Linked DNA regions of Homo sapiens. The protein of the gene in region 4 interacts with the protein of the main gene of each other region in a biochemical or structural test. Each region holds a gene or a part of one and is shown on either strand. Other genes may lie near its edges.

Region 1 (3,500 bases), on a different chromosome or scaffold from region 4:
GAAAAAGGCTGGGTCTCTGTGAAATCTCCCAGAAGTGGCTCAGCAATAAACATGTGAAATTTGGCCCATTCTGATATGCAGGTACACAGTACACACACCTGGAACTCCTGCTCAAATACAGGCCTCTTTTCTAGGTTCCTGCACTGTCAGCCAAACACCAAGTGTTCACTGGGGTGCATAAACCTCTCCAAGGATGGAGACTGGGCACCGGACAAGGGTACCTTGTCTCTAAGAGGTGTGCTGGTGTGCTACGGCCATTCAGTATATCTCTTGTATACGGTACAAGGCAGTGGATGCTCCTTAGGAAGTTGTTCAAACAGCCACATTCAGCAACCAACCACATGATGCTAAATTTACTCACAATAAACTGGCTGGTGGCTATTTACAGTTCAGGCCACTCTCCATAAACAAGAAATAGATGGTGACAAGTAATGAACTCATCATGTGGGGTTTCCTTTTACGGGGGAAGGGGGGCGGTCTCTAGTTTTCTGCAGGGGGAAGGATTAAAAGGGGTATGTGAGAATGCGATCTCTGTTACCTGCTCTTGTTGGGGATTAAGCCTTTCTCCAACTCGTTCCCAATCCTCACAGCCAGCCAGTTGCCCAGCTTGCCGTCATACAGTGTGTCTACCACTCGGAAGACCTCCCCTCTGGTGAAGGCCAGGCTCTGTGGAGTTTCCTTCTCACATTCAAAGTGGCTTCTTATAAAAAACGAATCCCCTCTGCCACAAGCCAGGATGTCTCTATACACTGAAAGACAAAAGCATCGTTTGTTGCATTCAGCTTAGTACAAGTTACAGTACTAGACACTCAACACAGCTTCTCCTATCTCTGATCTCCCCTTTACCTTCCTTCCATTCAGTGCACAAGTCCTATGGGAGTCACAGCTCCAACAGGAACAAGGACAAATAACCAGCTTCACGGCTTGCTGCAATGGTTAATTTTATTTCAACTTGACTGGGCCATGAAATAACCAGGTATTTGGTCAGACTTTATTCTATGCCTTTCTCTGAGGGTGTTTTTGAATGACAGTCACGTATAAATGGGTAGACTGAGCAAAGAAGATCGCCCTCCCCAATGCGAGTGGGCCTCATCCAATCAGTTGAGGGCCTGAAGAGAATGACAATCAGACCCCTTCTCAATTAAGAGGAAACTAGGCTGGGCGTGGTGGCTCATGCCTATAATCCCAGCACTTTGGGAGGCCAAGGTGGGTGGATCACAAGGTCAGGAGATCGAGACCATCCTGGCTAACACAGTGAAACCCCGTCTCTACTAAAAATACAAAAAATTAGCCGGGCGTGGTGGTGGGCGCCTGTAGTCCCAGCTACTCGGGAGGCTGAGGCAGGAGAATGGGGTGAACCTGGGAGGCAGAGCTTGCAGTGAGCCAAGATTGCTCCACTGCACTCCAGCCTCAGCGACAAAGCCAGACTCCGTCTCAAAAAAATAATAATAAATAAATAAATAAATAAATAAATAAATAAAAAATTAGGAGGAAACTACTCTTCCTGCCTGATGGCCTTCAAAAGGCGACATCAGCTCTTTTCCCTGACTTGGTACTGGAACTACACCATTGGCTCTCCTGGTTCTCAGGCCTTCAGACTGAGACTAGAACTAAATCACTGGCTCTCCTGAGTCTCTATCTTGCCCATTTTCACTGCAGATCTTGGCACTTGCCAGTCTCCATAATTATGTGAGCCAATTCTTTATAATAAATCTCTTTCTTTCCTATTGATTCCAATATCTCCTATCATTCTGTTTCTCTGGAGAACATTAACACAGTTGCCAATCAAGCTCTGAAGCAGACAAGGAGGACACTCTCAACACCCACTTAACAGATGGGAACAAGGCCTGGAAAGGTGAAACAACTTGTCAGACTGGACAGGGGTAACAGGCGCACCAGCCAGCAGCCATGGCCTTTGCACATGTCGTATGTAAACTCACTAATAACTCCAGGCAGAACATAAGGCTGCATCACTGTTCAGGAAGGCAGTTTTATTCCAAATTGACACAACTAGTAAAATTATTTCAGTGCATGCATAGAAAACATTTTTATGGAAAGTTAAACGGCACTCACATTTTCTTCACACACCTAGGGCCCAAGGACTAGGTGTTGAGATCCATCTCAATTTTTTAATACCCAGATTTGCCTATTCTGGTACCAAGACACCTCTCTCATCCTTCCCACTCCCCACCCCCACCCCAACTAAACTAAATGACCAAATTTGCTCACCATCGGCTCGGCTCTGAGCTAAAATGGTCACCATTTCACCTTTAGGGATTTCTAACAGGTAGAGAACGGCATCCTCCCGCACTAATCCTCTGAAATCCTGTGTGTTCACCTATTAGGAAGGAAAAACAGAAAAAGAAAAAAAAAAAAAAGAAAGAAAGAAAGAAAGAAAGAAAGAAAAAACAGAGAAGTTTATAGTAAGATGCCACTGACCCTTTTGTTTGTTTTCATCAGGGCCTGTCCAGAGCAAAGCCAAGATGCAAATGAGTCCTTAATGTCACTATTCAAGTCCTCGCGCCCAGCACCTTGCTATGGGCCTGCACACTATACCTTCCTGCCTCCCCATACTGCCAACCGCACCTTAGAGGTTAAGCCATTGAAGCAAGGATCTGTCACCAGATCACAATAGAATTTCTTGTGGTTGTTTCTATCCATCTCCCTTCTGTGAGTCTCTCACAGAGGTGGCCAAGAAGGTAATACACAAGTATGAAGCATGGGGAGTGTTGGGGTCTGTGACAACTGAGCATGCTGGCCCAGCATTTACACTAATTTTAAACTGGTTCAAATAAAAGTGTGCAAATAAAGACTCTGACCAATTCTACCCTTCTCCTATAGCTTCTATCACCTAAAAGTGTTTAACATGTGTTTATAAAATTGAAAGGTATGTATCAAATTAAAGAGCATCAGCCTTACAGTTACAAAGCAAGTAAAATTGAAATGTAGCACAAAGAACAAGACATTTTGAAATCATAGTGCTATGTGGTTTTTTTTTTTGAGATGTAGTCTCCCTCTGTCGCCCAGGCTGGAGTGCAATGGCGCGATCTTGGCTCACTGCAACCTCCGCCTCCTGGGTTCAAGCAATTCTTTTGCCTCAGCCTCCCTGAGTAGCTGCGACTACAGGCATGTGCCACCACACCCAGCTAATTTTTTTTGTATTTTCAGTAGAGACAAGGTTTCACCATGTTGGCCAGGCTGGTCTCGAACTCTTGACCTCAGGTGATCCGCCCACCTAGGCCTCCCAAAGTGCTGGGATTACATGCGTGAGCCACCACGCCTGGCCCATAGTTCTGTATCTTTCAGCCTATTTTAAAACAGAATTATAAATAAGTAAAATGCAAAAACCATATTAAAGTACCTGATATGTTAATAATATTTTGTAGAAATAAAGATATAAAATTCCTATGAAATATTTTCTTCAGTCATTGACAATTACAGAATCCTTTTAATCACAAGAGTAATGCTTTATTAAAGAAGAAACTTATCCTTAGTTGGGT
Region 2 (3,500 bases), on a different chromosome or scaffold from region 4:
AAAAAAAAAAGAAACTTATAGCACATTCATAAGATGGAGTACTATGAAATCGATAAAAATCATACTATATGCTCTCAAAAAATACTTATTTAGTATGTGCCACATGATACCATTTTTGTTTTATAAAACTTTACATGTACAGGTTAAAAGACTAAGATTGAAAAAATAAATAAATAAAAATAAAACTTACACATAGCACAGAATATAGTGGATGAGATTTGCCAAAAAATTCATAGAGGTCATCTCTGTGCTCTACTGTACTTTTCTAAGTCTATTTATTGATGTTATTTAGACCATATTTTTATCTCAGTAACTTGAAAGAGCACACTCACAATCCAATAAACTGTATTGGGGAAAATGTACATTTAGTGCAAATCCAACACAAACCAGAAAAATACATACAGCAAAATGACTGACTTACCCTGTTTATCTCAACAGTCCTTGGTTCCATATCTGTGCCTATAAAGAAGCAACACAATTAACTTTTTAATATTAAAAAATAATATATTTAGCATATAATATTGCCCCATGAAAAATGGTTTCATTTTCTAGGTCTTTCAAGAGAAGACACTAAAGCAAGCAGGTATTGTACCCTTCCTCAGCATCCAAGCTGGTAGCCAAGTCACCAGGGGCCATGTCCTCTTTTTTTTTTTTTTGACACAGAGTCTCGCTTTGTCACCCAGGCTGGAGTGCAGTGGCACCATCTCAGCTCACTGCAACCTCTGCCTCCCAGATTCAAGCAATTCTTCTGCCTCTGCCTCCAAATAGCTGGGATTACAGGTGCCTGCCACCACGCCCGGCTAATTTTTGTATTTTTAGTAGAGACGGGGTTTCACCATGTTGGCCAGGCTGGTCTCAAACTCTCGACCTCAAGTGATCCACCTGCCTCGGCCTCCCAAAGTGTTGGGATTACAGGCGTGAGCCACCGTGCCCGGCCTGCTGTGTCCTCTATTTTAAAGAAGTGCTCTCTGTTTGAGATCAATGTGGCCATAACCATTTGGTCTGACAAAAGTGGATGGGCTATATAGCAGCAGCTGCCTGGAACATGGTGAGTAAATGCTTGGAGGATGACTCATTTTTGTGTGTGTGTGTGGTTTTTTTTTTTTTTTTTTTTTTAGATGGAGTCTCACTCTGTCGCCCAGGCTGGAGTGCAGTGGTCCGATCTTAGCTCACTGCCATCTCTGCCTCTTGGGTTCAAGCGATTCTCCTGCCTCAGCCTCCCAAGTAGCTGGGATTATAGGCATGTGCCACCATGCCCGGCTAATTTTTGTATTTTTAGTACAGGCGAGGTTTCTCCATGTTGGCCAGGCTGCTCTCAAACTCCTGACCTCAGGTGATCCGCCTGCCTTGGCCTCCCAAAGTGCTAAGATTACAGGCATGAGCCACCGGGCCCGGCTGAGTCATTTGTGTTTCATTGTACATTTTTTTCTACCTTAATCAAAGATAACCCTCCATTCAACAAAAGACTTAAAAGGACCCCTTGTCCCACCCTGCCCCCAAGGATATACACACTTTTTTTTTTCTTTTAACTGGCCCAATTTTCCCATAGAAGGTATACACACTTCTGACCTTTCTCCAGTGACCTGTAATTTATTAATTTTCTCTTTGTAAGTAATTTTATTTTACCATGCACTCCAGCTTTCTGCTTTTCTGTTTTTCAGGTGCTTTGTGTTGTGCCACTGAAGGAATTTCTTTTTTTTTTTCTGGAGACGGAGTCTTGCTCTGTCACCCAGGCTGGAGTGCAGTGGCACGATCTTGGCTCACTGCAACCTCCACCACCCCCGCCAGTTTCAAGCAATTCTCCTGCCTCAGCCTCCTGAGTAGCTGGGACTACAGGCGTATGCCACCACGCCCGGCTAATTTTTTTTTGTATTTTAATAGAGACGGGGTTTCACGGGGTTAGCCAGGATGGTCTCGATCTCCTGACCTCAGGTGATCCGCCCGCCACAGCCGTCCCAAAGTGCTGGGATTACAGGTGTGAGCCACCATGCCTGGCCACCACTGAAGGAATCTCTATGGCTTTCCTACCTTCAGAACATGCCTTTCAGAAAGCTCAGCTTATGTGGCCAAGCTCAAAAAATTAAAAAACATTTATATTAAAGAAGACTGGTTTTTAAAAAACACATTTTTTTTTTTTAATTTGGGTAACAGGATAGTTTTGCTCTGGGTGTGTCCGTGTAATACCTGAATTTTTCTGGGAAGGATCTGAAACTCTTTTTGTGCCAACCAGGTTTTGCAGGCCAGTGATGACAGGAGCGAAGGAGGGATGACAGCTGCTGTGTGCACTCTGCTGACTACCCTGAAAGAAAGACCCAGGGGTCACCTGTGTGCAGACACTGACTTGACCCCCTAAATGCATACTTATCCATTAGTGTGCCAATTACTGATGTCACCATAACCATCTAACAGAAAATCGTGAGGAGGCCAGGAAAGAAAACAAAAATCACCCACACTATTCTCTTACTACCTCAACCCAATCCCATTTAGACATTTCCTCCATTGCTTTCTCCATTATGTGTGCTTTTGTATATGGTTTCAATCACCAAGGTGGAGACCATAGAATCATTTCAGCTGTTCTTGCTCCACATAAAATCAAAACCATTTTCCTAGGTTGCCACATAGTGTTTATGTATATATAGTCAGCTAATGGGCACTATGTTTCATTTGGGGTTACAGTCAACTTTATTACCCAAAATGTATTATGTATTTTGCTAAAACAAGTATAATAAGACCTTGATTAGCAGAAACCTGCCAAAATAGAACCCTCAATTGTGGGGAAAAAAGCACCAAATCTGAAGGGAAAAAGACTTGTTTTAGGGATATATAACATTTTTTTCTCAAAGATTTTCCTAGAATCAGTAATAATTTAGTCCAATCTGCTAGATCTCCATTACCTGTCCCTTTATTCATTTAAATGAATATGTGAGGTTAATACTGTGTAGTCTTTTAAGGCTAGTGGCTGTTCAACAAAAACTGTATACATAGTGAAGGGCCTTTCTTATGTAGACGAAAACATTGCAAATAATGAATATTTTTTTCTACCAAATTATTCTGCATCAAAATTTTAAGCTAAGCCTAAGATCACTGTTATCAGTTCATAAATTATAATTTGGTCCATTTTCTTAACTCTATGATGAAAGTTGTTTAATATTTTAATTCCTAAAATATGAAAACCTTCAAATATATAGAAAAGCTGAAAGAATTATACAATAGACATCCATATAAATAGCACCTAGATTTCACAATGAGTATTTTGCTATATTTCCTTTATCACATAGCCATTTATCTATTCATCACTCATCTTTTTTTAAAAAATTCATTTCAAAGTAAGTTGTAGATCTCAGTATACTTCATAGTGGCTATATACATTTAAAGGAGTGTTTTTATACTTTTCCTTAAAGGATATGATTTAAGTAAATGGTACTATAATAGATAACTAATCAGAACTGAGGAAGTACAGTATATTATAACTTTTGCCTTTAAAAAATTTCAGAAAGGTG
Region 3 (3,500 bases), on a different chromosome or scaffold from region 4:
TGCCCTGGGCCGTGGCCCACCTTCCACGTGCTCCTCGGTGGGTGTGACCCGAAGCCGCTTGAAGTGTTCATCTGTCTCGGGGTCCACGACCAGCAGCCGGGCCTCGTCCTCCCGTGCCTTGATGCTGGCCACCACCTCAGCATGGCGCAGTCCCTCCACATTCTGCCCGTTCACCTGCCGCCACCAGCATGTATCAGCCCCGCCATGGGCCCAGACAGCCCCCAACGCCGCGTGGCCAGGTGTGGCATCAAATATTCATCACAGCCACCGCCCACCGAGGCAGCAGGAGGCGCACCAGCTCAGGTTCCCAGCGTCTCCCTCCTCCCTGCAAGGACCCAGGGCCCCAGTGTGGACAGGTGCGGGGCACTCGGCACCCCGCAGCCCTGGTGGGCCGGTACCTCAATGAGCCGGTCCTGGGCGCGGAGGCCAGAGCGGGCGGCAGGTGAGCCCGGGTCCACAGAGCGGATGTACTGGCCGGGCCGGGACTTGTCACTATGCAGGTTGAACCCATAGCCCTGAGGTCCCTTTCGCAGGTGGCAGAGCCGAGGGCGCAGCTCCCTCAGGGGCCCACTGACATCCTGCAGGCCCAACGGACAGGGTCAGTCTCTTGCTCCAGCCTCCCGCCTCCAGAGGCCACTCCCCGGTGGTGCCGCCACTGCCCAAACTCGGTACCGTGCCCCCCACGGGCAGGCCCAGGTCTCAGTGGCAAACACTCCGGGCACCCAGGCTGCCTGTGACAGAGCTTTAGCTGTGGGAACTTGGGCAAAGCCTGTTTTCAAACCCAGAAGCCTCCCCGACGGGCCCAGCCGCCTTCCCGGGTTGCTGGGAGAATTCCTTTGGCTCGAGGCCAGCGTGGCGCACAGGCAGGGTGGGAGGAAGCACCAGGTGGGATGAACTGTCGCCGTTGGCCTCCTGGGGCGGTTGTCCCTGAGGGCTCTGCCTGTGCGTCCCCCTGCCCCGGGCTCTCCTCCAGAGCGTGGGGCAGGCGCTCCTAGGCCAGCAGTTTTGTTTTCTCTCCAGAGGCCTCCGTGGGGCTGGCTGCGGTGGCGGCTCTGTTTGCTTTCACATTCCAGGAAAATGAGCCGCCCCACCCCCGTGGGCCCAGCAAGCAGGGGCTGGGGCAGGAGCTTAGTGTGGACAGGGCACAGAGGGCCTCCTGGTGCCCGGAAGGACCCCCCGCTACCATCCCAGGCCCTGCCCCATGTTACCTCTGGCATCCTGCGGTAGGGCTCTGGGCCAGGGGACCATGCAGGCAAGGCCAGGCCCAATGACCACCTCCCAGCCAGGGGGTGGGCCAGGGTGCGGCGGCGGTGGCCAGCGGCTGCCCGTGCTCAGTTAAACATGGCGGTGGCCGGAGCAGGCAGGAGGCAGCTCAGGTTTCCAGGGAGCGCCAAGCTTGAGGGCGTGCGCAGGGGAGACTGTGCAGGCGGGCTGGGGGCTGCCAGGGCCCTTCCCTCACCTCCTACCTCCCTGTGTGTCCCTGAGGGACCACAGGCCAGGCCAGGCCAGGGCTGGGGCGGCATGGCAAGGGGGCGCTCAGACCTCAGGAGGGCAGGTCTCCAGGCCTCAGACACCCCCAACCCCTCCAGCCACCCACCTTCAAGCTCGCTCCAAACCCCAATGGACCAGAAACGGCCATGTCAGCGGGGGGGACCGCCCCGCCAAGGGAGCAAGGGGGTCCTTCTCCACACAGCTAGTGCTCTGTCCCCTGGGCTCAGGACCTGCCCTTGGTCTGGAACACCCTTCTCCTGTCCAGCCTGCCAGATGCCTCATCTGAAGCCTCCTGCCCACCCTCTGAACCCTCTCTGCATGGCCACCACCCAGCCCGTCACACCAGAAACTCCAGGGACAAGCCTGTGGCTCCCTGGCCCCACAGGGGCTCAGCTGGGCCACATGGGCTGAATTAGAGGGTGCAAGACCCCCAAAATCTCCAGGGCCCCACCACATAGACTCACTCCTCCCCCAGACACACCTGGTGGCACAGGCGTGGGGCTTCAAGGCTGACCCTGACACCTGCCCACCAAAGTGCCCCTCAGGGATGCAGTCACAGCACGGCCCCCAGGCTGGCCTGGGACGCAGGGAAGGCGTGGGGACAGGAGTCCAGTTCGGGAGGGGAAGTGGAGCACAGCCCCCAGGCTGGCCTGGGACGGAGGGAAGGCGTGGGGACAGGAGCCCAGTTCGGGAGGGGAGGTGGAGCACGGCCCCCAGGCTGGCCTGGGACGGAGGGAAGGCGTGGGGACAGGAGTCCAGTTCGGGAGGGGAGGTGGAGCACGGCCCCCAGGCTGGCCTGGGACGGAGGGAAGGCGTGGGGACAGGAGCCCAGTTCGGGAGGGGAGGTGGAGCACGGCCCCCAGGCTGGCCTGGGACGGAGGGAAGGCGTGGGGACAGGAGTCCAGTTCGGGAGGGGAGGTGGAGCACGGCCCCCAGGCTGGCCTGGGACGGAGGGAAGGCGTGGGGACAGGAGTCCAGTTCGGGAGGGGAGGTGGAGCACGGCCCCCAGGCTGGCCTGGGACGGAGGGAAGGCGTGGGGACAGGAGTCCAGTTCGGGAGGGGAGGTGGAGCACGGCCCCCAGGCTGGCCTGGGACGCAGGGAAGGCGTGGGGACAGGAGCCCAATTCAGTGGAGGAGGTGGGAGCGTGATATGGGCCCAGTCCGCAAAGACACATCACACAGCCACAGACACAAGACGTCCACACACACCTGCAAACACGCACAGCAGCCCACACATGCGGCCAGCCCCACAGTGCTGGCCCGGCAGCCCTTCCCACGCCTGCACAGCGGCCTGCGGGGCAGGGTTTCTCAGGGCACCAGACAGGAAGCAGGATCTGGTGGGTGTCTGGGGCCCTGAGGCCAGGCCAAGGACCCCTCAGTGTTCTCAGGGTCATTCTGGCCACCCCTCTGCCTCTGTCCAGAAGCAGCCGTCTTTCACTCTACAAGGCAAGAAGTTCTGCCTATCAAACCTAAACCCCTTCATTGTCAGCAGGGTCCCAGTGGCGCCAGGCACAGCACTAAAACCTCAGGTGGAGGGGCTGCAATGGAGGGGCCAGGGTGGGCTGCTGGCAGCACATGGGCTCGTGGGGAAGGGGGGCCCAGAGAGCCGAGGAGCTCGGGCGGCGTTCATAGCTCACATTCCTCCTCCCTGCCCTGGCTCAGCACACACTTCCTGCCGCCTCCCGCCAGGCCCTCGGGCTCCCACGGGCTCCAGGCTCCCTCCCTGCCGGCGGCCAGCACAGAGCTGGACCATCCCTGGTCCCCCAGCCATGCCTGTGTCCGGACAAAGAGGCTGGCATGGGGGTACCCTGGGCACCCCCCCAGATGGTGACGCACCAGCCCTGGCAGAGAAAGGCCTTCATTGTTGCTCAGCGACCAGCCTGCTTACATCAAGGTCCCGGAGTCCCCTCCTTCCACCCCGGGAGGCTGAGCGGCTGCCGGTTCCTCCTAGCCCTCCCTTCCTCCCACCCCACCTGACCTGTACCAGCCTCTGGGGTGGGCTCCGTGGA
Region 4 (4,041 bases):
ACCCAGCTTGGCAACATCGAAATCCTTTTTTAAAATCTGACTGCCGTGACTCCCCTAGTCCCGAAGACAGGCCCCGCTAACCCCATTCCCTGCCTGCTCAGTTCCACTTCAACACTCATCTGCCGGGGTGGGGCTGCACTTGGTCCACACAGGGGCCTCTGAGCCCTCTATGCCTCAGAGCACAGAGCGGGGCCACAGCCTGCCCAGGCCTCCAGGCGACCACGCCCAAGGAGGGTGGAAGGATGAGAGGGCTTCACTCCTACCACCGGCCTTCCCCCCAAGCCCCGGGATCAGCCATCTGCCCACCTGCCCCCCAGGCCACCGACCGCCCCTCTGCAGCCAGGGGGTCGCTGGAGCTGCCCAGGGGAGGGAGTGGCTGGTGTGGGCCTCCACCTGCCAGCCCCCACGCTGCGGTGCACCCATCTCTGTCGAAGGTCATGCTGGAGGGGACGGAGGGGAGTGGGCACGTTCTACAGCTCCCTCTCCACCGCGTCCCTCTCCGGTCAGGGGGTGCCACTGCCCGACTGGAAGTGGGGCCAGGCCGACCAGCAGCCCTGGAAGTCCAGTCCTTCCCGCTCACTGTCCACATTTCGCAGGCCAGAGCCCAGATGCTGACCAAGCTCTCCCGGTGGGGCACAGAGGCAGGGTGGGAGGGGCCGGACACAGCCCCTCTGGGGATTTCGGGGCTCCTCCCACCCCTGGCCTGTCTCGAAATCCAGGCTTCTGGTCAAAGCTGTATTCACCTCTCAGGAAGGCCTGGGGTGGGAGGAGGATTCCAGGGCCTTCCTCCAGGCTCTGTCCAGGACGCATGTGCCCCAGGCCTCAGTTTCTCCAGTCAAGCACTAGGGGTGCAGAGAATCCAGGGGAAGAGAGAACCCCACAGCCTCCCTGCCCAGTTCCGGGGGTCCAGGGTCCGTGGGGGCTGTCCTGGGGCGCCCAGGCCTGGAGGAGGAGAGACAGGCGGGAAAACCGCAGGCTTCCCAGGTCCGGCGCGCTGTCCGTGGTGCTGAAACCGCGCCCGTCCCGCGCGCCCGGCCTCGCTAGCCCGGCGGGCCCCACCTACACCCTCCACCTGCACCCTCCACACCCCACCTCACACCCCACTCGTGGATACACAAACACACACGCATCCCTCCATGGTCGCGTGTGTGAGACCTGCCTGCGGCTCACACTACTGCCCACCGGTGCACACCGGCCCCGGGCGTACACGCGCACGCCCGCCACCTGGTCCCAACACACACAAACCACACGTCCCACCAAAATAAACCCACCGGAGGCGCACACGCCCGCGACCACCACGCAAACACACTCCTGGAGACACACCTCTCCGGCCACAGGCTCGCGCCCCGGGAACCCCGCCGCGGTCACGGGCCCCTGTTCACACACAGCCCACGGGGACACGCGCCGGTCTCGCTCTCCGGCCACAGCACGCACAGCCCAGGAACCACGACCGCAAACATCAGTGGCGGTGGCCCCGCGCCGGCCCTGCTCCGAGCCTTCCACGCATTAGCCGGCTGGATCCACAGCGGCGTCTACACACCCACCGCCGCATGCGCGCACCGCCCGCGGCTCGGGTGGAGCGGCTCCCGGGGACACAGCCTGGGGACCCGCACGCTTTCCAGGCCCGCGGCCCCGGGCGCGCCTCCTCGCAGGCGGGGCGCGGGTGGACGCCGTGGGAGCCGCTTAACCCCCTCTCCCCCGGCCTCCCTGGGGCGCGTCCTTCCCGGGCGCCCTTCGTTCCTCCTCCCTCCCGCTCCGCCGCCTCTCTGGGGCCCACGTTCCCCTCTATTCGTCCTCTCTGCCCCTCTGCGCTCAGACCCTGGCCCTGCGGCCCACCCCACCCGCCGCGCCGCAGGGCGGAGGATGTCGGGGTGCGTGGGAGGGGGGCGCTCCGCGGTCACCCGGGGAGCCCCCCCAGAGGCGGAGCCTCGCGCGCCGGGGTCACTCCGGGGCGGGTCCCGGACACGCCCGAGGTCACCGAGGAGCCCCGAGGTCACCGGCCCGGCGCGCCGCCCCGCCCTCCCCAGGCGCTCCAAGGACGGCTCCCCGCGCGCCCGGCTCCCCGGGCCCCCTCGCGCCGACCGGCCCTCCCGGAGGCGGTACCTGAAGTCGCTGTACGGGTGGATGATCCAGGCCCCCGCCGACTTGACGCGCTCCTGCTCGCGCTCCACGGCCTTCTGGCTGCCGAACATCCGCAGCGAGAACTTGTTGACGCCCGGCTGCAGGAGCGCGCCGAACTGGCGCTGCATGAAGCTGGCCTGGCTGCCGCGCGGCTCCCCCGCCGGGCCCGCCTCCTCGCTGCCCGCCTCCTCCGCCGGCCCCGGCCCCGGCGCGGGCCCCGAGGCCGCCCCGCGGCACGAGAACGACACCTTGGGCCCCCGCGCCGGGCCCTCGGGCCCCGCGGGGCTGCACTGCGGCTCGCCGCGCCCGCACTCGCCGTTCGGGCTGCCCTTGGCCGTGCTCGCCGCGCCCGGGGTGCCGGGGCGGCCGCACGAGCTGTCGCGGCTGCGGAGCCGGCCCCGCGGGCCGCCCTCATCCGCCGCCTCCGGGGGCAACGCCTCGGCCCGGGGCGGGTGCTGGGGGGGCGCGGGCCCGGGGCCCGGGGGGGGCGCGGGCGGCGGCGGCGGCGGCGGCTGCTGTTGGGGGGGCGCGGGCGGCGGCGGCGGCGGCGGCCCCGGCGCGGGGGTCGCGCCCGGGCTCTCCCCGGGCCGCCCGCCGCCCCCGCGCGCGTCCATGGCGAGGCGGCGCCGGGCAGTGCGGAGCGGAGCCGCCGCCGCCGCCGCCGGCCGGAGCCCGAGGGAGGGGGGAGGCGGGGGCGGGGCGGGGCGGAGCCGCGGGGGGCGGAGCCTCGCGGCGGGGGAGGGGCGGGGGAGGGGCGGGGGCGGGAGACCCGCCTCGGCTGCGCCCCCTCCCCGCGCGCCGCCTCCGCTCGGCGCCGGGAAACTCGGGCCGCGGGGTCGGGGGCGCCCCAAGGTCACGCGGCCCGAGGCCTCGGAGCCCCGCGCGGGCCTCTCCCCAGGAGGGGAAACTGAGGCCCGCGACGTGTAAGGACGCGCCCAAGGTCACCGGGCCCCGCTGCCCGGCCGGAGCCGCCTCTCCTGCGCCGCGGCTTCCACCTCTGTCCGGAGGGCACCGGCGCGGGGAGGGTGGACGCGGGCCTGGGAGACGGGAGAGGCCGCCACGGCCAGCGCCTCCTTGCTTTCTGTGAGGTTTGAAGACTTCCACGACGAAAGGGTGTTTCTAAAGGTCACAGGAGCCCTTGCTGGGTCGCCTGTGGGCCCTGGACAGAGACCCTTGAGTGCGTGGGGAGGGGCAGGCCGGCTTGGGCGCCGTTCTGGGAGACTCAGGCACTCCTCTCCCTGGTCTGCATTTGAGGAAACTGAGGCCAAGCCCAGCCAGACAAGGAAAACTGGAAAAGCCACCCGAGGGTGTGGGGTTCCCACCCACCCCTCAAACAGTGCCCTGGGGAGCCGTGCGGCGGGGGTCTCCTCTAGGTCTGGTGGGCTTTAGATTGGGGTCACAGGGAGACCCAAAGCCCACTAGCGCCTTCGCACGGGTACCAGAGCCCCCTGCCCCGGGGTTGCCTCCTTTCCCCGACCCCTCGGACTCCGGGTGCAGCTGTGCCCCCAGTGCCTCCAGTCCCCAGCTCTGAGACAGGTGCTTCCCAAGGCTCTGCTTCTGGGCCGAAGCCGGCTGGGCGTGGGTGCTGCTTGGTGCCAGGTGACATGAGGCCTCTGTCCCTAGCCACCCAGCCCACCAGACAGCCGGGAGGGGGCAGGTGAGGAAGCTGGCAAGTGAGAGAGAGGAGACAGACAGTCACACTCGAAGAAGTGGAGGCTGAACATCCCCACCTGGAGGCAGGAGGCCCTCCTGGGACCCTCCTGGCACCTGGCCTGACGTCCTCTCAGCCACGATGTCCCGTGTGCCGGGTGCCCCCCACCCATCTGCACCTCGAGGCCACCGGGGCAGAGATGGCCCTCTTCCTACACCCAGGAGGCACTCAGTGGTACTTGAGGGAGGGCCAGCATGTGCCCGGCTGAC
Region 5 (3,500 bases), on a different chromosome or scaffold from region 4:
CTAGCCACGGAGTATCTTGGTATATTTTTATTTAAATTTACTCTGATACTTAAACTCCTTTCCTGTCTATAAAGCCCAGTCAGCATCGAGCCCCAAGAAGTTCCCTATTTCTAGCCATTTGAGTGACCTGGGGGATGTGGAGGAGGACTCCTCACCAGCACAGAAGCCAGGCAAGCTCTCCGACATGTACCCCTCCACGGTGCCCAGTGTGGACAGTGCTGTGGATTCATGGGATGGGTCTGCAATAGACACCAGCTATGGAACTCAAGGTATGTCTTTACTTTGTCCCCCAGAGGACTTGTCATTGTTGAAGCCCATGCTTCTCCAAGATTCATCCTCTGCTCCATGAGGAGAATATCTTTCTTTAACTTGTGTCTGCTTTGGTGCAGCCATAATCATATTGAACACATTGAATACTTACACTCTGCTGGCCATGCATTTTCTTCTAGTGCTTATAAGGCATGAACCTTTACCAAACACTAACAGGCCTCCATTAGGTCTACTGATGGCCAAGTATCCCATCCAGGGCTTGTCCTTCAAGCTTAGATTAATGTGAGGCAAACCATACAATAAAGTGGCTCGTTCAATACAGGCCCCATTGCCTTATTTTTCAGCAAGCTTTCCACAAAGATGGATTGGGGAGTTTGGAAGAGGTGCATAAGAGATTAGCCAATGATTTGTGACTCTATTTATTCCTGCACACTCCTGACTTTTTTTTTTCTTTTAGAGACTGGGTCTCACTCTGTCACCCCAGCTAGAATACCCTGGCACCATCATAGTTCATTATAGTCTCAAACTCCTGGACTCAAGGGATCTTGCTGCCTCAGTCTCCTCAGTAGCTGAGACTATGTGCACACACCACCACACCCAGCTGATTTTTAAATTTTTGTAGATACGGGGTCTTGTCATGTTCTCCAGGCTGGTATCAAACTTCTGGCCTCCAGCAATCCTCCCATCTTGGCCTCCCAAAGTGCTAGGATAATAGGCATGAGCCACCATGCCCTTTCCCTGAATGTTTATAATTAGAGCACTATAATCACAATATAGGAAAGTATAGAGTAGATTTTTCTTCATAGGTGTCATCGTCATGTGAAGAAATACTATCTACATTAAAAAGCCTCACTCATGGAATATAAACACATAAAAGGTGTCAGACTGAATACAGAGCATAAACTAATAGCTTCTTTTAAAAAATATTTTCTTCCCAGTGATCCGTAGCATCAACAAGAGAAGTATGTCAAAACTTCTTGGTATTTCTCCTCATCTGAGCCTTACCTTCTCTCATGTTCTATGTAAATTCCAGCCTCTGAATCCCTTGTTTGCTCTGGGTTTCAGTCAGTCAAATAATAAAACACATAAACAGTTTAGAGAACACATTGGTGTGAGGGCTGCTTTGTCACTGAGTTAACTGTACTTTTTAGGAGTGTCTGTATCCAGTTTGCTCTCTCCTGGTTTTCCTAGTTTCCTTCTCTCAGCCTGCCTATGTTGTGTCACTCTCTGTTAAGTCCTCTGGTGAACAAAAAACAAAAATGGAAGGGAGAAAAAACTGGAAAAAAAAATGAAAGGAGATGATATTTCAAAGTTGTCAAGTTGTTACTTTCATTAGAGATGATACTGGAGTTAGGTGGGGAAAATACTTTGAACACCTAAGTAGAATTGGGGCTTTATCTGGCAATTAATTTTTCCAAGTCATAATACCTTGTGACAAGTTCACCTATGCCACCAAATAACAGACCTTCTGATTGCCTGAGAATTGATGGGCCACCAGAAGACACTGAGTAAAGGACAGAAGTCACATTCTATCAGAGTAGACTCAGGTTTATTTATCAATTTATTGTGTATTGGTTATTTATTTGTGTATTTTTTGTGTATTGCTTATTAATGTAGAGATATTTTTGTTACCAGAGATTTTTGTGAGGGTGCTATTGATATTAATTAGTTCTTCCCTGTAAGGTGATCTGTAAGACCTTAGCTACTCCATCCCTTGAAACCACAGACACAGGACCATGAGAAGCAAACTGAATATAGGACCTGCCCCTCACTAGTAAAAGATGAAAAACCATTTACTATTTGTGAAGCATTTTGAAATTTTGAATCATAGTCATAATATTACATTTTGCATTTATAATTTAGACATTTTTATGAGGTTGAAGGGAACTGAGGGATAAGTAGAGACAATGGCAATCAGGATAGAATCGAAGTACTCCAAGGTAATGAAAAAATAGTAATAACCCTTTATATATATAGAACACTCTAGAGTTTACAAAGCACTTTCACATAACTAATCCCCATTAATTCTTGTGACGAACATGGGAGCTGAAGGCAGGATTTCAGGTTTGGAAAGGGTTTAGGAGTCAGCTAGTCTGATGTCCAGTGCAGCCCTTGGTGCCAGGTCCTGCCTCACTGCACGCCAAGACACGCTGCATGGACTTGAATGCCCAAGGTGACAGGTTGTTCCTTGTGCTGAGGCAGCCCCCCATCTCCACGTAGCTCTGATGACTCTAAAGCTCTCACTTGTATTGAGCTGCAGTATGCCTAATAGTCCCGGCTATACCCTCAAGGTCATTCTGCACTAGACTAAAGCCTCTTCTCCTGACAGCCCCTTAGATACTCGAAGACAGCTATTGGGTCTCTGTTGAGGCTTTCCTTCTCCAAGCAAAATAGCCCCAGTTCCTTTAACTGTGTCTTCTATAATTTACTGACGAGTATCTGTATCGTCCTGTGGACCTCCCTTACGAATGTGCTTCAGTTTACCTGTGTACCCGTTAAAGTGTAACATTCAGAAAGGAAAATCACACAACAGCCCGACAGCCCGGAGCAAAGCAAGCTGGTCACTGGCATCATTGAAGACAGGAGAACTGATCAATGACACCTACCTCAACATAAGAATTTTAGTGGTCATGGCACATCTGTCACTCATTTTGCGCTTACAGTTTACCGAGATCTCAAAGTCTTGTGAATGTGTTTTTTTTTCTTTACCCGTGATATTCAGTTAAACTGCATCTCTCCAGATTGTGCTTGTGAGGTTGACTTTTTAAAAGCAAGGCACAGCTGGGTGCAGTGGCTCAGGCCTATATTCCCAGCACTTTGGGAGGCTGAGGTGGGCAAATCACCTGAGGTCAGGAGTTCAAGACCAGCCTGAGCAACGTGGCGAAACCCCATCTCTACTAAAAATACAAAAACTAGCCAGGCGTGGTGGCACACACCTGTAATCCCAGCTACTCGGGAGGCTGAGGCAGGAGAATCGCTTGAACCAGGAGGCGGAGATTGCAGTGAGCCAAGATCATGCCACTGCACTCCAGCCTGGGCAATAGAACAAGACTACGTCTCAAAAAAAATTAAAACAAAAATAAAAGCAAGGCATAGAACCACACTTTTATTTTTCCTATTCAATATTATGTTGTGAGATACAGCTTATCTCTCCAACCTGTCCCTCCAGCCTCTCAGCAGGCTCTCTGCCTTGTTCCAGGAAGCCCCTGCACATTCTCTCTGTTCCCTTT
Region 6 (3,500 bases), on a different chromosome or scaffold from region 4:
GGCCTCCTGCGGGGCCACTGCTCCCCATTCCCCACCAATAGGACCATGGCCCACATTTCTACAGCACAGATCTGCTGGAAGGCTTCTTCTTTTCAGCTAAAAACAATCTCAGCTCCAACCCTGTCTGCTCACTTTCTATCCACGCCAGCTATCAGAATTTCCTAAACTGCTGTGGCCCAGACTTAAAAAAAACAAAAACACCACCATCTGCTCTTGCCATCCCCAAGGTCAGCGTCCACCACGGAGCCAGCCCCCGGCAGCTGGGGGAGCCCTCCAGTGACGCGGACAGAGAGCCTTTTCTTCATCCAGTGCTGGGACGAGGAAGAGCTCAACGCTTAGGTCACATTGTCTGGCTCCAAAGACTCCACATTGCACACAGACAACCTTTTTGCATCGTTGCCAATAACCCTTGTGATGCCCCGTTTTCCCCTCGTTTGGTGAATGCAATACCTGTCACCTTCATGTTCATCCTGTCTCTCGCCCTGATGAGCTCGTTCTCTATCTCTGGCCCTTGTTATCACAACCAGACACACACACTCCTAAATAATGCGAACACACACCAGCTCCAGGAAGCCAACACAAATAGAAAGCTCCAAAATAAAAACTCACTTCAGAGCCCAGGGAACAAGGGTGCAGAGAGGGAGTTAACACGGGGCAGCTGCTGGGACAAGGGGAAAAGGAGAGGTCTGGCCACGGGGAGGTGAAAACAACTCTTCATCCCACCCTTGTCCCTGGCCCAGGTGGCCTCATGAGGATCATCACGGAGGGTCCTGGCCCCATCCAACCTCCCAGTCCCCGCCTCACCTTGGCGGCCACAGCTTCAATGTTGGCAGGGGCGATGCATTCGAACGCGTTGGGGTTCTTCTCTCGGGAGTAGATGATGGTCTCCGTCTTCTGCCTTCTGAGGAACTCATCTCTTGTGACGATATCTGCAGAGAGAGGGGCCAGTCCTGAGGGCAGCACGAGGTGGCCTTGGGTTGACCATCCCACTCAGGCCCTGCCTGCCACCTTCTGGGCTCTACAGAACTCGATGTCCGATCCCCTTCCAGCCATGTTTAAATGAATCTCGTCTCCCCTCGACTAGACTGTGAAGCTCCTTGAGGGCAGGGCTAAGGTTAACCTTCTCCATACTCCCCATGGCAGCCCATAGAGCAGGTGCTTGGCACCTCAGCAATACCTTTCACTGGACAAAGCAGCTCAGGCACCGTGGTGCAAGGCTGATCACCAGTCTAAATAAATCTCCTGTTCCACCCACCCACCCACCTACCCATCCATCCACCCACCCATCTACCGACCCCTCACCCACCCACCCATCTGTCCACCTACCTATCCACCCATCCACCCATCCCCTTATCCATCCATCCATCCATCCATCCATCCATCCATCCATCCACTCATCCATCCATCCACCCACCTATCCATCCATCCATCCATCCATCCATCCATCCATCCATCCATCCACCAATCCATCCACCCACTCACCCATCCACCCACCCATCCTTCCATCCATCCATCCACCCACCCATTTATCTATCAATCTGTCCACCCACCCAGTCACCCATCATCCATTCAGCCATCCTTCCATCCATCCATCCACCTATCCAGGGGGAGGAGGGGTGATGGGGAGGAGGAGGAGGGAAGAAGAGGGAGGAGGGAGGGGAGGATGAGGAAGAAGAAAAGGAGGGGAGGAAAGGGGAGGAGGGAAGTGAGGAGGGGGAGGGGAGGAGTGAGAAGTTGGAGGAGGGAGAAGAGAAGAGGGAGAAGGGAGGAGGAAGGAAAGGAAAGAGGGAAGAGGAGGAAAGAGGGAAGAGAAGAGGGGAGGAGGGAAGAGAAGAGGGGAGGAGGGAAGAGAAGAGGGGAAGTCGTCCTGGTTCATGGCTCCCGCGGGGCTCCCCAGGTGGCCGTGGCTCGCCGCTCACCTGACTTGCAGATGGTGAACTCCATGGCACCTCCCGAGTTGAGCAGCCTCTGCACCAGCGTCTTGGCCAGCACGGTGGGTGTGAAGAGCACGGGCCGGCGGCGCTCGCAGTAGAAGGCGCGTACCAGGCTGTAGGGGATGAGGCTGAGGTTCTTGCCCAGCTCGCTCTCAGGGTCCAGCTCTGGCAGGGGCAGGAGAGGGTGGCGGTCAGACCCCTGGGGCTCCGAAGACCTTCCACGGAGGACGGGGCCCCTGGGCTGGGTCCTGGAAGCCACCGTCAGTGTGAAGGCCTGGCTGCTGCCCCGGGCATCCAGTGTCTGAGGTCACCTCGGGCTGGCACTGCTTGGGGCTTGTGTGCCAGGGAGGGGAGGTGTGGTGGGGGGCAGGCAGAGTGTGTGACAAATGCAGGAACCTTGGCTGAGCTCTGGAGGGAAAGTTTGCCTTGTCAGACGATCAAGGAGGGCTTCTTGGAGGAAGGGTAGGGACTGGGTACAGCCCAGCGGAGGGGAGGGCGAGGGCAAGGAAAGCAAGTGCCGGCAGGCACCCACGAGACACCAGGACCAGCGGCCAAGGCCTTGGGTGTCTCCCAGGAGCACTGGGAGGGACGACTTGGCCTCAGTTCTGCTTTCTCAGTCCCTCTGTGGCTGGAGTGGCAGAGCCACACAGAAGCCCGGGGTTCTGATGAAGCCACCCCCAGGCAGCCCGAGGAAACAGCTCCCAGAAACGGGCAGCCTGTCCCTTGTCCCTTGTGCCTTTTCTTGTACCCTGGCCTGGCCACTCCAACGTCCAAAGGGCCAGCCCGGGAAGCCGCCCCAAGGCCTCCTTTGAGATCCAGCCAGGGCTGTGTGGCTTCCCTTTCCCTGAGCAGGGCCAGCCAGGGCCAGCGGGGTGGGGGACGGTGGACCGGGAGGCCCCTCGCCGGGTTGATAAATGGCAAGTGGCACTCAGTGGGTAGAGAAATCAATAAAACGAACACTTCACAGCAAACAGCCCCAATTAACACGGGTACCCGGGAGCGAAGCAACCACACGAGAGCGTCGTTATTGGGTGAGCTTGGCGGGATGTCACCCCGAGGCAGCATGGTCCTCACAGCCAAGGCCAGGCTCCCTCACCGTTTTAATTTCTTTTTGTCTTTTATTTTTATTTTTAGAGCTAGGAGTCTTGCTGTATGGCCCAGGCCAGAGTGACTGCAGTGATGTTATCTTGGTTCACTGCAGCCTCAAACTCCTGCTCAAGTGATCCTCCCACCTCAGCCTCCCAAGTGGCTGGGACCATAGGCACGTGACACCATGCCTAGCTATTTACATATTTTAAGATTTATTTTTAATGCTTTATGTTTTTATTTTAATGTTTTTATATATTTTATAGTTATATATATATATATTTATTTATTTATTTTATTTTATTTTTTTTTCTGAGACGGAGTCTCGCTCTGTCACCCAGGCTGGAGTGCAGTGGCGGGATCTCGGCTCACTGCAAGCTCCACCTCCCAGGTTCACGCCATTCTTCCGCCTCAGCCTCCAGTGTAGCTGGGACTACAGGCGCCCGCCACCGCGCCCGGCTAACTTTTTGTATTTTTAGT
Region 7 (3,500 bases), on a different chromosome or scaffold from region 4:
TAAAAGTACAAAAAAAAAAAAATTAGCCAGGCATGGTGGTGCACACCTGCAGTCCCAGCTACTCGGGAAGCTGAGGCAAGAGAATCCCTTGAACCTGGGAGGTGTAGGTTGCTGTGAGCAGAGATTGCACCACTGCACTCCAGCCTGGCGATAGAGCAAACAAAACAAAACAAAACAAAAACAAACAAAAAAAGAAGACCTCACCCATCCAGTCTTAAGGGTGCCCTGAAGCAATTTCCCAAAACTCAGAGCTTCCCAGGGTGATGACTAAAGAAGCAAAAAAGGCCGCTGCTTGGATGGAAGGACAAAGCCCAGAGCTGACCCCAAGGCGTGGGGAGACCCCTCGGGACTTGGCTCCCCCGGGAAGTGTGAGCCCCCAGGACCTGCTGCCCAGAGGCGGGCACAATAACCGGGTCATACTCACAGTTGCGCCTGCTTCTCTGCTAGTTCTTTGGTTTTCTCCTACAATTACAAAGCGGGAGAAAAAGCAAGTGAGCAAAACAGGCTAACACAGGGACGCGTTCAAATACACGATACCATCGACAGGAAAACAAGCCATGCTGCCCCAGGCATCCTGTGTGACGCTGACTATTTATTCAAGCTGTGCTGGAAAGGACATTTTCCATGTGACTTCAACATCTTCCCATTCCATTACCGACTATGACCTACAAGTTTGCTACAATAGAGTATCTCACAACTCTCTAGCTTACATAACAACCGGCTATTTAAAAAATAGTAGAGGCTGGGCAAGGTGGCTCACACCTGGAATCCCAGCACTTTGGGAGGCTGAGGCAGGCAGATCACTTAAGGTCAGGAATTCGAGACCAGCCTGGACAACATGGTGAAACCCCATCTCTACTAAAAATACAAAAATTAGCCGGGTGTGGTGGCGCATGCCTATAATCCCAGCTATTTGGGAGGCTGAGGCAGGAGAATCCCTTGAACCTGGGAGGCAGAGGTTGCAGTGAGACGAGATCACGCCACCGCACTACAGCCTGGGTGACAGAGCGAGACTCCGTCTCAGCAAAAAAAAAAAAAAAAAAAAAAGAATTATTCTTGCCTTAGTAGTAAGTTATTATCCGGCTGAATGTAACCGTGATGGCTGAGTGCGCGTAGACTAAGCGTGTATATTTGGTAAGGAATGAGGACGGGGCAGCGGCGACACAGTTGCACATTCTCAGGAAACAAACGCGCAAATGATATTCGCATGGGATCTGGACAGCACCCAGCGGAGGCTTCGGATTCCCACAGTGGGTGCAGGGGGAAGAGGTGGACTCAGGCTCGGTCTCATGTCTATCAGCTCAATCTCTGGACCAGGCAATTCACCTCTGGGAGCCTCTGTTTCAGAGCCTGTAGCATAGGGGCAGGGTGAGCCCTGGTGTGCTGCAGGGAGTGGGCCAGCCACACAGCGAGCCCCAGGTGGCTGGGACACAGGCTGGGACCCGGGTCCCTCAGCAAGTGACTTACGGCCCCCTGGCTTCAGTTTCCCTGGCTGTGACATGGGGTGTGGCATCTACATCGTCAGGGTGGTTGTGATAAAGAAATTAAACAGCGTTTGGTTTGCAAGTAAGTGCCTGGCGCAGAGGAGACTCGGGAAATGACAATGATCGTGCGAAAACCCATGACTTCTGGCCAGCAGGTAACTCTCGGTCACAGTGGCCACGATGTGGACACACACTACAGGGACATCACCTGGCCCTGTGTCCATGACTGCACGGAGGGGACACGGGCACGCTGCAGTGGCACTCCCATCAAATCCCAAGCCGGGAACCCGAGGGGAAGAGGCACGGACACCCAGATTACAACACCCACGGTGCACAGAGACGGCTCCCACTGACATCTGGACAGGGAAGCCTGAGCTGGCTTTTACTTTTTAAAAGTCTCAGACATTTAAAATGTGGATTTCGATATGAGAAAGTGATAAGGTTTCTACACAGTCAAGTGGTTCCCCCTTCCCCTGTCTGCCGGGGATAAGCGGGGCCCAGACTAGCGAGGATCTGAGGGTCTCTGAACGAACTTGAACAACTACGAGTTGTCCTTCGGGTCCCTGGGAGCCAAGTCACTGTGGGGTGGGGCCCAGCGGGGGGCCATGACTGTGTGATGCCTGTTCCAGCACTCATGGGCCCAGGGCGGTCCTGCTCACTGGCGGCCACACTGGATTCCTGGGGACATTGGCAATGCCTGCAGCCATGGGTGTATTGCGTGTGTGTGTGTGGCGGGGCGGCAGAGGGTGACCGGCATCTAGGGGTGGAGGCCGGGGATGCTGCTGAATCCTCTGCAATGCACAGGCCAGCCTCACAGCAAGGAGCTCTCCTGCCACAGTGTCCACAGGGCCGGGGATGAGAGAGGCTGGCCTGGAGGAAAGTTCGTCAACGCACAAAAGGTGACGGGCCCTGCACCTCCAAACTCGGATCAGGGATGGCTCCAGCGGGTATGTGCTCAACCGGCCCCTGGCAGCAAGCACAGGGCGCCGGCACACACAGGGGCTTCTGGGGCTCTTGGGCAGGGGCCTGTGAGAGCTATCAATGTCACCTCGGCCTCGTGGTGCCCAGGCTCAGGGGCAGCTCACTCCTGGCACGTGACAGTGCTGGGCCCAGCTGGACCCCAGGGAGGGTACAAGCCCAGAGCTCAGGAGGTGACCTAGGACCCCACGCAAACCCCACCCTCAGGGGCAAAGGGCTGCAGCTGACACCTTGGGTTCTGGGGCTGCTTCTGGTGGCCTGTGGGGCTGGGGGGCAGCGACAGGCAGGGAAAGGCCGCCCTGCGCTCAGCAGCACAGCACCGTGGGGGTCAGATAGAGGCGCTCCCGCCTCCCAGCCGGGGCCAGCTCCGGGCCCCCTCTTCCCCCAGACCGGCACAGGACCCAGACCGCCCACCCCAGCACACTGACCCAGACAGTCTCGCGGATCAGCCTGGCTATCTTGAGCAGGAGCTGCCCGAATGTGCCCGGCTGGAAGTGGGTGGCCGAGTGCTGGATGCAGAGGCACAGGAGGAAGGCGGGGGTCAGCTTGTGGTCGTCGCCCCCCGGCTCGATCAACGTCATGATCCTCTGCAGCAGCGTGTCCTCCAGGTGGGGCTCAAACTCCAGGAGCAGCTGCTGGCGCCGGGGCAGGGCGGCCTGAGTAGGGGAGGCGGCTCCCCGGGCCCCGAGCGCGGCCCCGCACAGCCGGCAGCTCTGCGGCACAGCCCGGAGGCGCGCCAAGGCCCGGGCGGGCAGGGGCTGGGCCTGCGCGGGGTCCTTGAATAGCAGCAGGTAGTAGAGCCCCAGGGAGAGCAGGTCCCCGTGGTGCAGCACCACGGTCCTGTGCCCCACCTCGGAGAAGTTGACGGAGATGTGCGCCCCGGGGATGGGCTCCAGGACCAGCCTCCCCGCGGCCTGGCCGCTGTCCGGGAGCGGTTGCCGGCGGATGGTGCAGTGTAGAGGCAGGATGTCGGGGGCTGAGAGGCTGATGCTGGGCTTGCTGGAGGGGGTCCGCTGGCCCACCGTGTGCCGGTCCCGG

Evidence for each region.
Region 1: the proteins of HCN2 (region 4) and TJP2 interact in a test that uses a peptide from one of them, tested with the Homo sapiens proteins (one large-scale study listed by IntAct).
Region 2: the proteins of HCN2 (region 4) and PATJ interact in a test that uses a peptide from one of them, tested with the Homo sapiens proteins (one large-scale study listed by IntAct).
Region 3: the proteins of HCN2 (region 4) and NHERF2 interact in a test that uses a peptide from one of them, tested with the Homo sapiens proteins (one large-scale study listed by IntAct).
Region 5: the proteins of HCN2 (region 4) and GRIP1 interact in a test that uses a peptide from one of them, tested with the Homo sapiens proteins (one large-scale study listed by IntAct).
Region 6: the proteins of HCN2 (region 4) and CARD11 interact in a test that uses a peptide from one of them, tested with the Homo sapiens proteins (one large-scale study listed by IntAct).
Region 7: the proteins of HCN2 (region 4) and RADIL interact in a test that uses a peptide from one of them, tested with the Homo sapiens proteins (one large-scale study listed by IntAct).

What each region holds. Positions count from the first base shown.
Region 1 is NC_000009.12:69,233,277-69,236,776, reverse strand, and holds part of TJP2 (tight junction protein 2), read right to left. Parts: intron 2,339-3,500; coding exon 2,230-2,338; intron 750-2,229; coding exon 539-749; intron 1-538. UniProt on the Homo sapiens protein: Plays a role in tight junctions and adherens junctions. Acts as a positive regulator of RANKL-induced osteoclast differentiation, potentially via mediating downstream transcriptional activity.
Region 2 is NC_000001.11:62,119,980-62,123,479, reverse strand, and holds part of PATJ (inaD-like protein), read right to left. Parts: intron 2,300-3,500; coding exon 2,185-2,299; intron 460-2,184; coding exon 422-459; intron 1-421.
Region 3 is NC_000016.10:2,033,402-2,036,901, reverse strand, and holds part of NHERF2 (Na(+)/H(+) exchange regulatory cofactor NHE-RF2), read right to left. Parts: coding exon of another isoform or gene 3,470-3,500; intron 3,314-3,469; exon of another isoform or gene 1,218-3,313; coding exon of another isoform or gene 1,209-1,217; intron 579-1,208; coding exon 399-578; intron 175-398; coding exon 21-174; intron 1-20.
Region 4 is NC_000019.10:588,640-592,680, reverse strand, and holds the start of HCN2 (potassium/sodium hyperpolarization-activated cyclic nucleotide-gated channel 2), read right to left. Parts: upstream 2,801-4,041; 5' UTR 2,736-2,800; coding exon 2,104-2,735; intron 1-2,103. UniProt on the Homo sapiens protein: Hyperpolarization-activated ion channel that is permeable to sodium and potassium ions. Displays lower selectivity for K(+) over Na(+) ions. Contributes to the native pacemaker currents in heart (If) and in neurons (Ih).
Region 5 is NC_000012.12:66,389,077-66,392,576, reverse strand, and holds part of GRIP1 (glutamate receptor-interacting protein 1), read left to right. Parts: intron 1-74; coding exon 75-269; intron 270-3,500. UniProt on the Homo sapiens protein: May play a role as a localized scaffold for the assembly of a multiprotein signaling complex and as mediator of the trafficking of its binding partners at specific subcellular location in neurons.
Region 6 is NC_000007.14:2,911,368-2,914,867, forward strand, and holds part of CARD11 (caspase recruitment domain-containing protein 11), read right to left. Parts: intron 2,100-3,500; coding exon 1,920-2,099; intron 930-1,919; coding exon 805-929; intron 1-804. UniProt on the Homo sapiens protein: Adapter protein that plays a key role in adaptive immune response by transducing the activation of NF-kappa-B downstream of T-cell receptor (TCR) and B-cell receptor (BCR) engagement.
Region 7 is NC_000007.14:4,831,717-4,835,216, forward strand, and holds part of RADIL (ras-associating and dilute domain-containing protein), read right to left. Parts: coding exon 2,891-3,500; intron 463-2,890; coding exon 425-462; intron 1-424. UniProt on the Homo sapiens protein: Downstream effector of Rap required for cell adhesion and migration of neural crest precursors during development.